Homo sapiens: one gene and its partners. The protein of the gene in region 1 purifies or fractionates together with the protein of each later gene. This does not show direct contact. Each region holds a gene or a part of one and is shown in the gene's direction. Other genes may lie near its edges. The genes, in order: KLHL7, GLI3 and EOLA1.

What was found.
Region 2: the proteins of KLHL7 (region 1) and GLI3 purify together in Homo sapiens (affinity purification with mass spectrometry, with the first as the bait; one large-scale study listed by BioGRID). This does not show direct contact.
Region 3: the proteins of KLHL7 (region 1) and EOLA1 purify together in Homo sapiens (co-immunoprecipitation; one large-scale study listed by IntAct). This does not show direct contact.

Annotation. Positions count from the first base shown.
Region 1 is NC_000007.14:23,168,149-23,171,803, forward strand, and holds part of KLHL7 (kelch-like protein 7), read left to right. Parts: intron 1-3,655. UniProt on the Homo sapiens protein: Substrate-specific adapter of a BCR (BTB-CUL3-RBX1) E3 ubiquitin ligase complex. The BCR(KLHL7) complex acts by mediating ubiquitination and subsequent degradation of substrate proteins. Probably mediates 'Lys-48'-linked ubiquitination.
Region 2 is NC_000007.14:42,027,592-42,031,246, reverse strand, and holds part of GLI3 (transcriptional activator GLI3), read left to right. Parts: intron 1-3,655. UniProt on the Homo sapiens protein: Has a dual function as a transcriptional activator and a repressor of the sonic hedgehog (Shh) pathway, and plays a role in limb development.
Region 3 is NC_000023.11:149,543,857-149,546,421, forward strand, and holds part of EOLA1 (protein EOLA1), read left to right. Parts: exon of another isoform or gene 1-1,235; coding exon of another isoform or gene 1,236-1,272; intron 1,273-1,511; coding exon of another isoform or gene 1,512-1,644; intron 1,645-1,745; coding exon of another isoform or gene 1,746-1,774; coding exon 1,775-2,027; intron 2,028-2,565. UniProt on the Homo sapiens protein: May play a role in cell protection during the inflammatory response. In epithelial cells, negatively regulates IL6 production and apoptosis through the regulation of MT2A expression.

The DNA of each region.
Region 1 (3,655 bases):
GTGTATATAAACTTTTGAGTGTGCTAGGGTCAGTGGCATATTTATGACCTGGACCTTTCCCTTACACCAGAAATGGCTTGAACTTACACCCCATGGGAACCTCTTTCTTTCTGGTTCTGCGTGCAATAAATGCCTATGAATGAGACACATCTGATTGATTCGTCAACTCATAAAATGTTTTTGTTTGAGCGGTCAGGAAATGTAGAGGAGGAGGGGGGAGTTTATGACCAGCAATAAATTTATCCTTAAGTAGAAATATTAGATATTGGCTCATGGCATTAATAAATCATGCCTCCCTAGTTCTTTTTAGGTGTAAACTTCCTAAGTACATTTAGATTCATGTTTATTAAATAAAATTATTCTTAAATCAACTGCTTTTAAAAAGGCAAAGTGTGTCAAAAAGGTAAAATGCTAAAGAAATAACTGGTTAGCCAGTTTTTCTGACCTTGTAGTTAATGATGGAACACATTCAATGTAGCCAAAGGAAATGTGCTAATCATTGAATAATGGAGAGGGCATGAGGGCACGGGTTGTGAGTAGTGACATTAAAGCTGATGAGGACATAAAACAGATGATACCCTAGTCGTACCTTTTATGGAAACATCCAAAGAGCTTTGATAAGAAAAGTCACTTGATCATATGGCTGGATTGCCCATCGTTCTTCCCTTACTAGAACAAGTTACTGGGTGAATACGTTCACTAAAATGCTATGCCAGAGTTGCATCAAAACTCTCGTGCTTAAAGTTTTATATTTAGGAAATATTGCCAAACTACAAAACATGGAAGTCTTCAACTCCAGCTACTGCTTTTTTTAAAATTAAGAAATAAGATGCCAGGCATGGTGGCTCATGCCTATAATTCCAGCACTTTGGGAGGCTGAGGCAGGCAGATCACTTGAGGTCAGGAGTATGAGATCAGCCTGGCCAACATGGCAAAATCCCGTCTCTACTAAAAATACAAAAACTAGCTGGGTGTTGTGGCGCGTGCCTGTAATCCACTACTGGGGAGGCTGAAGCAGGAAAATTGCTTGAACCTGGGAGGCGGAGGTTGCAGTGAGCCAAGATTGTGCCACAGCACTCCGGCCTGGGTGACAGAGCAAGACTCCATCTCAAAAAAAAATAAAAAATAAAAAAATAAGAGCTTAATTATAAAATATGATTAATTATGTGCATTTATCTATGATTCCCACATATTTTTAAAAGATTTAAGGAAGCATAATCAATAACTTCTTTCCAGTGCAAATAATAGAAAAGCAAGTTGTCTTGAAATTTGTCTTTTGCTAAAGATGTTTACCAACTTTGCTCCCTTTTATGTGAACCTCTACCTTACTTCCCATAAACCCTAGGCTCAAAAAGTGTTACAGCATACTAGTTGGAAAACTGATTCATTCTGCTAATTATTTTTTATTTCTAAAAAATCTCTTAAAAGAGAAGCCATAACCATAAAAACTCTAGGTTTCTAAATTTTTACATCTTTATTCAGGCACTATCAATGTAAATTAATATTGATTTTTTACTTACTTTTTTGTTCAAAGTAAAAATATAAAGGAGTTCTGCAGCTTCTGTATTTTTTAAAACTAGGTGAATATTCAGTTTCAGGAATATTTAAAAACTTACAAGACCTAGCATTTCTTTCATTTTATATATATTGAGCTTAAATTTGAATTCTCTATGTTCCCTTCAATGCCCTTAAATTTTCACAAATGAAAAGCTAGTGTGAATATAATTATCCAACTCTCAAAATAAATGTTATATTATTTCCTTTTAAAAATGTTACCTAGTCCAGGTGTGGTGGTTCATACCTGTAATCCCAGCACTTTGGGAGGCCGAGGCTGGTGGATCGTCTAAGGTCAGGAGTTCGAGACCAGCCTGACCAACATGGTGAAACTCTGTCTCGTCTAAAAATACCAAAAAAAATTAGCCGGGCGTGGTGGCGCGTGCCTGTAATCCCAGCTATTCAGGAGGCTGAGGCAGGAGAATCATTTGAACCCGGGAGGTGGAGGTTGTAGTGAGCTGAGATCGTGCCATTGCACTGCAGCCAGGGCAACAAGAGCGAAACTCTGTCTCAAAAACAAAAACAAAAATAAAAACAAAAAGTTATCTAGCCAGCCAAGTTTTTTTTAATAAGAATTTCTTCCCAATTTTGACATTTTAAGTGTTTGATAATTAGAATGTGTTTAATTGGAAGCTGAAAAACTAAGCCTATGGACCATAGAAACACAAATAACACATGTTGTCACTCATGTGGGAGCTAAAAATGTTGATCTCATGGAGGTAGAGAGTAGAATGATGGTTATCAGAGGTTGGTTAACAAGTACAGAAATACAGTTAGATAGGATAAGTTCTAATATTCAGTAGTACAGTAGGGAGACTATAGTTAACAATAATTTATTGTATATTTCAAAATAGCTAGAGAAGAATTGGAATGTTCCCAACACAAAGAAAAGATATTCCTCAGCAGCAACATGGGAGGCCTGGGTTCCTTCCCTAGCCCAAAAAGAAACAAAAGGAAAGATAAATGTTTCAGGTGCTGGATATCCCAGTTACTCTGACTTGATCATTACACATTGTATACATGTGTCAAAATATCACAGGTACCATAAAAATATGTACATGTATTATGTATCACATTTTTAAAATCAGTTTTAAAAAAGATGGAGAGGAGCAGAAGCTCATAATAAAGTAACTGAAGAAAGAAAGAAATTATGTCTATGGAAACAATGTGACACAGTTTGAGCGGTCAGAATTTTAAGAAATGACTTTTTTTTTTTTTTTTTGTGAGACGGAGTCTCACTCTGTCACCATGCTGGAATGCAGTGGCACGATCTCAGCTCACTGCAACTTCTGCCTCCCAGGTTCAAGCGATTCTCCTGCCTCAGCCTCCTGAGTAGCTGGGATTACAGGCGCACGCCACCACACGGGCTAATTTTTGTATTTTCAGTAGAGACGGGGTTTCACCATGTTGGCCAGGATGGCCTCCATCTCTTGACCTTGTGATCTGCCCACCTTGGCCTCCCAAAGTGCTGGGATTACAGGCGAAAAAACGCTTCTAAACATTAAACTTCAGATTGCAGATAGCGGGGACCTAGTATGTACTCTGCATGTGAATTATAGGAGGAAGGGGAATTTGTGAAAGTTTTTTCTAAACCTTCAGGAGATTTAGATATACATAAAGACATGCTGTCTTTTTATATCATTAACATTATATTTGGAGAAGAAAGTGGTATGTAAATGGAATTTTTCCAAGTCAAATACTGTGTTTTAATGCATGATGATAGCTGAGTCTATAAATCTCACTACGTGCAGGGCAGTGAAGACCTAGTTTTTACTGCTGTCCCACTTCCGAGCTGTATGCCGGTCACTTCACCTGGATGAGCGTGTGTGTTTTTCCTAAAAACAGGAGCCATGCTGTCCACCTCACCTTAACAGAGAACTTTGAAAATGAGAGTGGTGACTGTCAAACCATTTTTAAAACAATACATAAATGTAAGACAAAAGAATTGTTAATACTTCAGAGTTAATCATTGTGCCTTAATTATGTTTTATAAAGTTGAATTCATCAAATTGTTTTTTGTTTTTTGAGACGGCGTCTGCCTCTGTCGCCCAGGCTGCAGTGCAGTGGCGTGATCTCAGCTCACTGCAAGCTCCGCCTCCTG
Region 2 (3,655 bases), about 19 Mb from region 1:
AGAAACAAAAGCTATAAAAGTAATTTTAGAAATAATAACAGATTAATTGTTGAATGCAGAGAATTCAGAATCAGAATGTAAAATTAATTTCTGGTGACTCATTGGAAAGAGTGGGGTGAACAGAAACATGGAGGCTATGAGGATGGGAAGCACAGGTACCAAGGTTTAGACTGTAGATTATGTCCTGCTCTAGAGAAGGTATAAGAGATTATTAACAATTTCAACTATGCCTGGGTGTGGTGGCTCATGCCTGTAATCCCAGCACCTTGGGAGGCCGAGGCGGCCGGATCACTTGAGGTCAGGAGTTCAAGACTAGCCTGGCCAACATGGTGAAACCCCATCTCTACTAAAAATACAAAAATTAGCTGGGCATGGTGGTGCATGCCTGTAATCCCAGCTGCTCGGGAGGCTGAGGCAGGAGAATCGCTTGAACCTGGGAGGCGGAGGTTTCAGTGAGCTGAGATCGTGCCACTGCACTCCAGCCTGGGAGACAGAACGAGTCTCCATCTCAAAAAAAAAACAAGAAACAAAAAAACAAAAAAAAAAAAAACAAATCAACAATAGTAATAATTTCTATTTGTAGGAAATTGTGGAATGAATACATGAACTATTTAGGAAGGTTCTTATTCAGGGCCCCTAAAAATAGAATTTACCTTCTGTTTTTAATTCTGATATCTTTAATCAGCAAAGTCTGTCCTGTGCCATTGAAGTGCTGCAGAAAGAAATGGATGTAGACACTAGCTTCGTTTGTGTAATACTGCTTTACAGACATGTTGTCAAATTGTAGTTTTCAGAGGAAAACATAGTTTTCTTTGAGGTGACTCTTTTGAGTGTGGTAGGCAGGATAACGGCCCCAAAGATGTCCACATCCTAATCCCCAGGACCTGTGAATAGGTTACCTTCCATGCCAGAACGACTTTTGCAGGTGTGATTAAGCTAAGGATCTTGAGATGAGAAGATGATCCTCGATTATCCGGGTGGCAGTGATGTAATCACAGGGTCCCCTGTGAGAGGGAAGCAGGAGAGGCAAGTTAGGGTCAGAGGAGGAGGAGGAGGAGGCCTGAGTGATGTGGACCCCTGAGCCAAGGAATGTGGGCAGCCTCCAGGTAATGGAACAGGCAGGGAGCCTAGACCGTCTGGAATAATGCAGCCCCGCCGGCCTATTGCAGACTTCTGACTTCCAGAACTGTAAGGTAATAAACAGTGTCTGTTTTTTTAAGCCACTCAGTTTGGGCTGTTTGTTGCAGCAGCAACAGGGAACTAATAGACACTGAAGAATGGATTCAGTCACTCATTGACTCAGTACTGCGTGTCTGCTCTGCCAGGCACACTGCCCGGCCCAGCTGGACCTTGCCTCCTAGACAGAGAGACAGAAAGAGTTTTAGAGAGTACTGCGTGCTGCCATGAGAATAGAATTGTCACGCAGTAGAAAACGATGGGGCAAGGAGGTGCAGAGGGGCCTCGTTTTGATGGGGCATGAGTCTAAGAAGGCCCCTCTGAGGAGGTGACATTTAAGCTGGAACGTGAATGTAAAAAAGGAAGTGGCCATTGTGAGCTCTGGAAGCCAAGGGTTCCAGGCAGGGGACACTGTGAGTGCTGAAGATGCAGAGGGACTCATGCTGTGACAGGAGGCAAAAGGATGCAGGACTCCCCTCCTCCACGGCCCTCCCCACCTTGATTTAAAGGAGGAGGCTGTGGTGGCTCAGGTTTTCTTATCCCCCTAGTGGGAAAACCTCAGGAGAATCTTTTCATACCTTGATCTTGCCCAAGAGAGTTGAGGGTATGCGTGGGAGGCATCCTTTCTCATGGGCATTTTGTCTGCGACTCTTGACATCCGTTTGCTGTGCCCAGTCATCGCCCGTCCTCTGCCCCAGCACTCTGATGGCAGTGTTCTGAGAGCAGAGGAGCCTTGACTCCCAAATCTGTTAAGTGATACTGTGTCAGAGCTGAGAACTTTCTACTTTTGTCATCAAATTCTAAATTGGCTTTGTCATCTGGAGTGGAGCAGCCTTCCTGCGCACAGTCCCTGGCAGGAGCAGCAGCAGAAGGTCGAGGGCCAGCCCTTCTGGGTCCAGACAAGCTGTCCCATACCCTGCCCTGGCCCAGGTCTGTGCACGAGGAGGAGGAGAATGTTTCTGTTGCTGGCTTCTTATGAATAAGCACTGAAGGCTCAGGATCACCGTCCACTGTGTGTTCCCTCATAGCCCTTGCAGTCTAATTGTTGATGTGGATTTTAGAGAACATTTATTCCCGTCACCTGGTTTTACCAGCAAAAAGGTGGAGGCCCTGAATGGGGATATGGCCAAAGTATGTGAAGAGCTTTCAGAACCCCTACCCCTGCTCCCCGAGGACAAGGAGGATCGTAGACCTAGGAAACTGCGGTGGGAATGCTGAGTCTTATCTTTTGTAAGGATATCTCCTACATCTTTTTATTTCTTTATTTTTATTTATTATTATTATTATTATTATTATTATTTATTTTTGAGACGGAGTCTTGCTCTGTCACCCAGGCTGGAGTGCAGTGGCGCGATCTTGGCTCACCGCAACCTCCGCCTCTCCAGTTCAAGTGATTCTCCTGCCTCAGACTCTCGAGCAGCTGGGATTACAGGTGCATGCCATCACGCCTGGCTAATTTTTGTATTTTTAGTAGAAACGAGGTTTCGCCATGTTGGTCAGGCTTGTCTCGAACTCCTGACCTCAGGTGACCCACCCGCCTCAACCTCCCAAAGTGCTGGGATTACAGGCGTGAGCCACCGCGCCCGGCCTCCTACATCTTTTTTAAAATGCACTTCCCTTATCCGTCTGTGAATGCTTTTGAGTTGCTTTTGTATAAAATCAAGGGCATGTTTTCTGAATGGTCTCTATTTTTAATTAAGTACTGATTTTTTAAGCCCCCAAATGTCGTGTCTCCCAGAATTAGAAGTATAAATGACCTTCAGGGACCCTCTTTCAACTCTGCCAGATAGTCTAGGCTCCTAGAACCCTGGAAAGGTGTTTGGAGATACATGCAAAGTCGGTGTGCCATGGTAATTATATGTGAAGTGGGTTATTTTGGTTTTTGTTTATTTAATGAATAGAATAACGTAGTTACACTTAGTAATACTCATTCACCCAAAGGAAGGGGGGCTGTTAAATCATTGTGTTTTTTGATGAATGGCTTGTACACTGAAAAATAAATTGGACAAACTGGCATAGAGCTCAGTGAACATGAAATCAGCTATTAGAAGAAAGCTTGTGAACAAATTCTGAGGCAGATATGCATCTTTTGATTAATGCCCTATCAATCATCCACACAGCTACCTTAGCTAAGTCTTGCCATAATCATTCATGCTTGCTTTTGGAAACACTGGCAGTAACTATAACGCTGCAGAAACGGAATATTATTACTGATTTCTCCCTAACTTACTGTGAACAATGACTGTTTTCACCACGTTTCTGCTTTCCTTTATTAAGGAAATACAATGTAGAATGAAAGGAGAGTTTCTCAAAGCCTGGTGAAATTCTCCTAGGGTATTCTTAATGATATTCAGTCTTAAATGGGCAAGCTATTGTAATGTAAGGTTCTCTGCAGGAATGATAGTAATGTAATCCCATTGAAGCTGCCTGTTATGGATTGTAGTCAAATAGGCAAAATGTAGAGTCACATTAATGAACA
Region 3 (2,565 bases), on another chromosome or scaffold:
GAGGGAAGGAGTGTGCCCAGCCATGCTGGGGCTGCTGAGCATGGACTAAGATGAAGACAGGACTGGCATGAGGCCGGCCATGGGTGCTTGTGGGGATAGGTCAGTCAGTGGAGTGGGTGGTGGGGGGGGTGGGGAATAAAGGGAGAAAGGTGGGGGTGGGGGCAGAAGGTTCAGAGAGGAAGTAGAGACTGCGCATGTAGACAGCTCTTCTGAGGTCTCGGCTGTTCAGGGTTGTAGAGAAGGGAGGCAGAGTGGGAGGCGCGCGTGTGCTCAGAGTAGGGATGCTGAGCGAGCATAGATGGTGGCTGGTGGCACCCAGGGCCCGGAGTGAGCCAGAGGAGCAGGGTCCAGAGCACAGCAGGCAACCGGCTCAGCTGAGGCAGCTCACCCCAGAGGCGGGAGAAAAGCAGGAGATCTGGAGCTCAGAAGGCTGCAGTGCAGACTGGGAAAGGAGTGAATACCAGGCAGCTTTGGCCCTATCAGGGCTTTGTCTCATGAGGGTGGGTATATTTTCTTAAAATCATAGAGCGTACTAGAGGTTGCGTTTATGTGTTGAAAGGAAGGACAGAGAGAGGAGTAGGGGCAGCTCAAGGGTGGAGTTCAGGGCCGGGGGCGGGGCCACGGGCCTGAGGGGTGAGGGCAGCCACTATTTCTGACTGTTCTATTAGGTGCCACGTACTGGGCTGGGTGCTCTTGGTGCCTTATCTCCCTTCCTCACAGCCATGTGGAAACTGAGGCATCTCAAGAGTCTATGACTGGGCTGAGGTTCTGGTTTCGAGCCCAGGGTTCCTTCCAAGGCACAGGGCCGTCCTCCATGCAAGAGGAGGGGACCCTCTCCCAAGCCAGACACGCAGGAGGCTGGGCAAGAGTTGTGGGAAGTCAGAGCCCGTGTGACTGTGGGCTGGTGCCTCATTCTCCTCAGCCATAGAGTGGGCCTCACAGTACCACTGACCCTGCTGGGTTACTTGAAGATTCAATTTGATGATCCGAGGATCATGCCATCCCAGAGGCTGGCACGTGGAAGGCATGTGTGTGGGGTTGCTAGTTGTTCTGATTATCATTCTTCTTTTCTCAGCTCAGATTGGGACAGGGGCATCTGCTGACAGTGGAGAGCAGTGGTAGGGGAAGGGGCTTGAGGAAGGTGGCACCCAGAGGGGTGGAGAGGAGATGTCTGACTGAGGGCCATCTGAGGTCACGGTGCATCCTGAGGACAGAGCTGAGATTGGATATCAACGATGTGGGCTCAGCAGCCCTGGAGTAGGAGCTGGGAAGGTCAGTGCCTTGGTGGCGGCAGGGCCAGGGCACTGAGAGTATTGGCAGGGCACAGCAGGGGAAAGGGAAGAGAAGCAGAGGGTGGGACTCTCCCTCTGTGCTGGAAGAGGGCTAACACCAGCCCGGACTCTCCACTCTGGCTAGGCCAAGGGGGCCCTCTGTCCTCTGTGTTGCCCTAGGGCTCGGTGACCTCTGTCATAGCACTGACCACATGGTATCCTGCCTGTGCCTTCCTCTAGCTGTCCCCGCCCTACTCCGGACCGCCCCAAAGACTCCATGGGATGGACCTGAGTCAGCCGAATCCCAGCCCCTTCCCTTGGGCCTGCTGTGGTGCTGGACATCAGTGACAGACGGAAGCAGGAGACCATCAAGGTCAGTGCGATTTAGGCCACCTGAGAGACACGGGGGGAAGGTCAGGCCACTGCCCATGAGCTTGGAGGGCTGGCGTGTGATGCGCTTCTGTGCTTCCGCAGGCTACGGGAGGCCCGGGGCGCTTGCGAAGATGAAGTTTGGCTGCCTCTCCTTCCGGCAGCCTTATGCTGGCTTTGTCTTAAATGGAATCAAGACTGTGGAGACGCGCTGGCGTCCCCTGCTGAGCAGCCAGCGGAACTGTACCATCGCCGTCCACATTGCTCACAGGGACTGGGAAGGCGATGCCTGGCGGGAGCTGCTGGTGGAGAGACTCGGGATGACTCCTGCTCAGATTCAGGCCTTGCTCAGGAAAGGGGAAAAGTTTGGTCGAGGAGTGATAGCGGGTAAGTGACAATGTACCAAATGCGCAGACAACGCCTAGGGCTGCTGCCCAAGATCTTGCTTGGGAATTTGGGGGCTTCTCTTGTCATCTGAACTGATTGGCGTGTATAACACAGTTTCCTTTGGCAACACACCTTCAAAGGGGCGGCAAGGACCTTGGGCTGGGGGTTGGTATGGCTGGCTTCCACGAGTTCTGGTAAATCATTTCTCCACTCTGGGCCTCAGTTCCTGTTTCTGATCTCAGTGAGAAGCCTGGTCAGGGCCATGTGCACATGGTGTTTGTGGTGTTTGGCTGTGTGTATTTGCACATACATGTGTGAGTGCACATGTGTGGCAGAGACCATGAAAAGCAGCCCAGCCCGCCGAATGGGTCAGGTGGCCTCTAGAGTTGGGCTGCCCGCCTGGCTTCATGAACCTGCCCCAGCCCCACCACTCACAGCACCCTGGGAAAGTCCCCTAACCTCTAGGTGACTGAGGCCCGACATCAGCATCTGTCCCCTGGTGACCTGCTCAGGCATCACCTGTAGCTTCCCAGGCAGT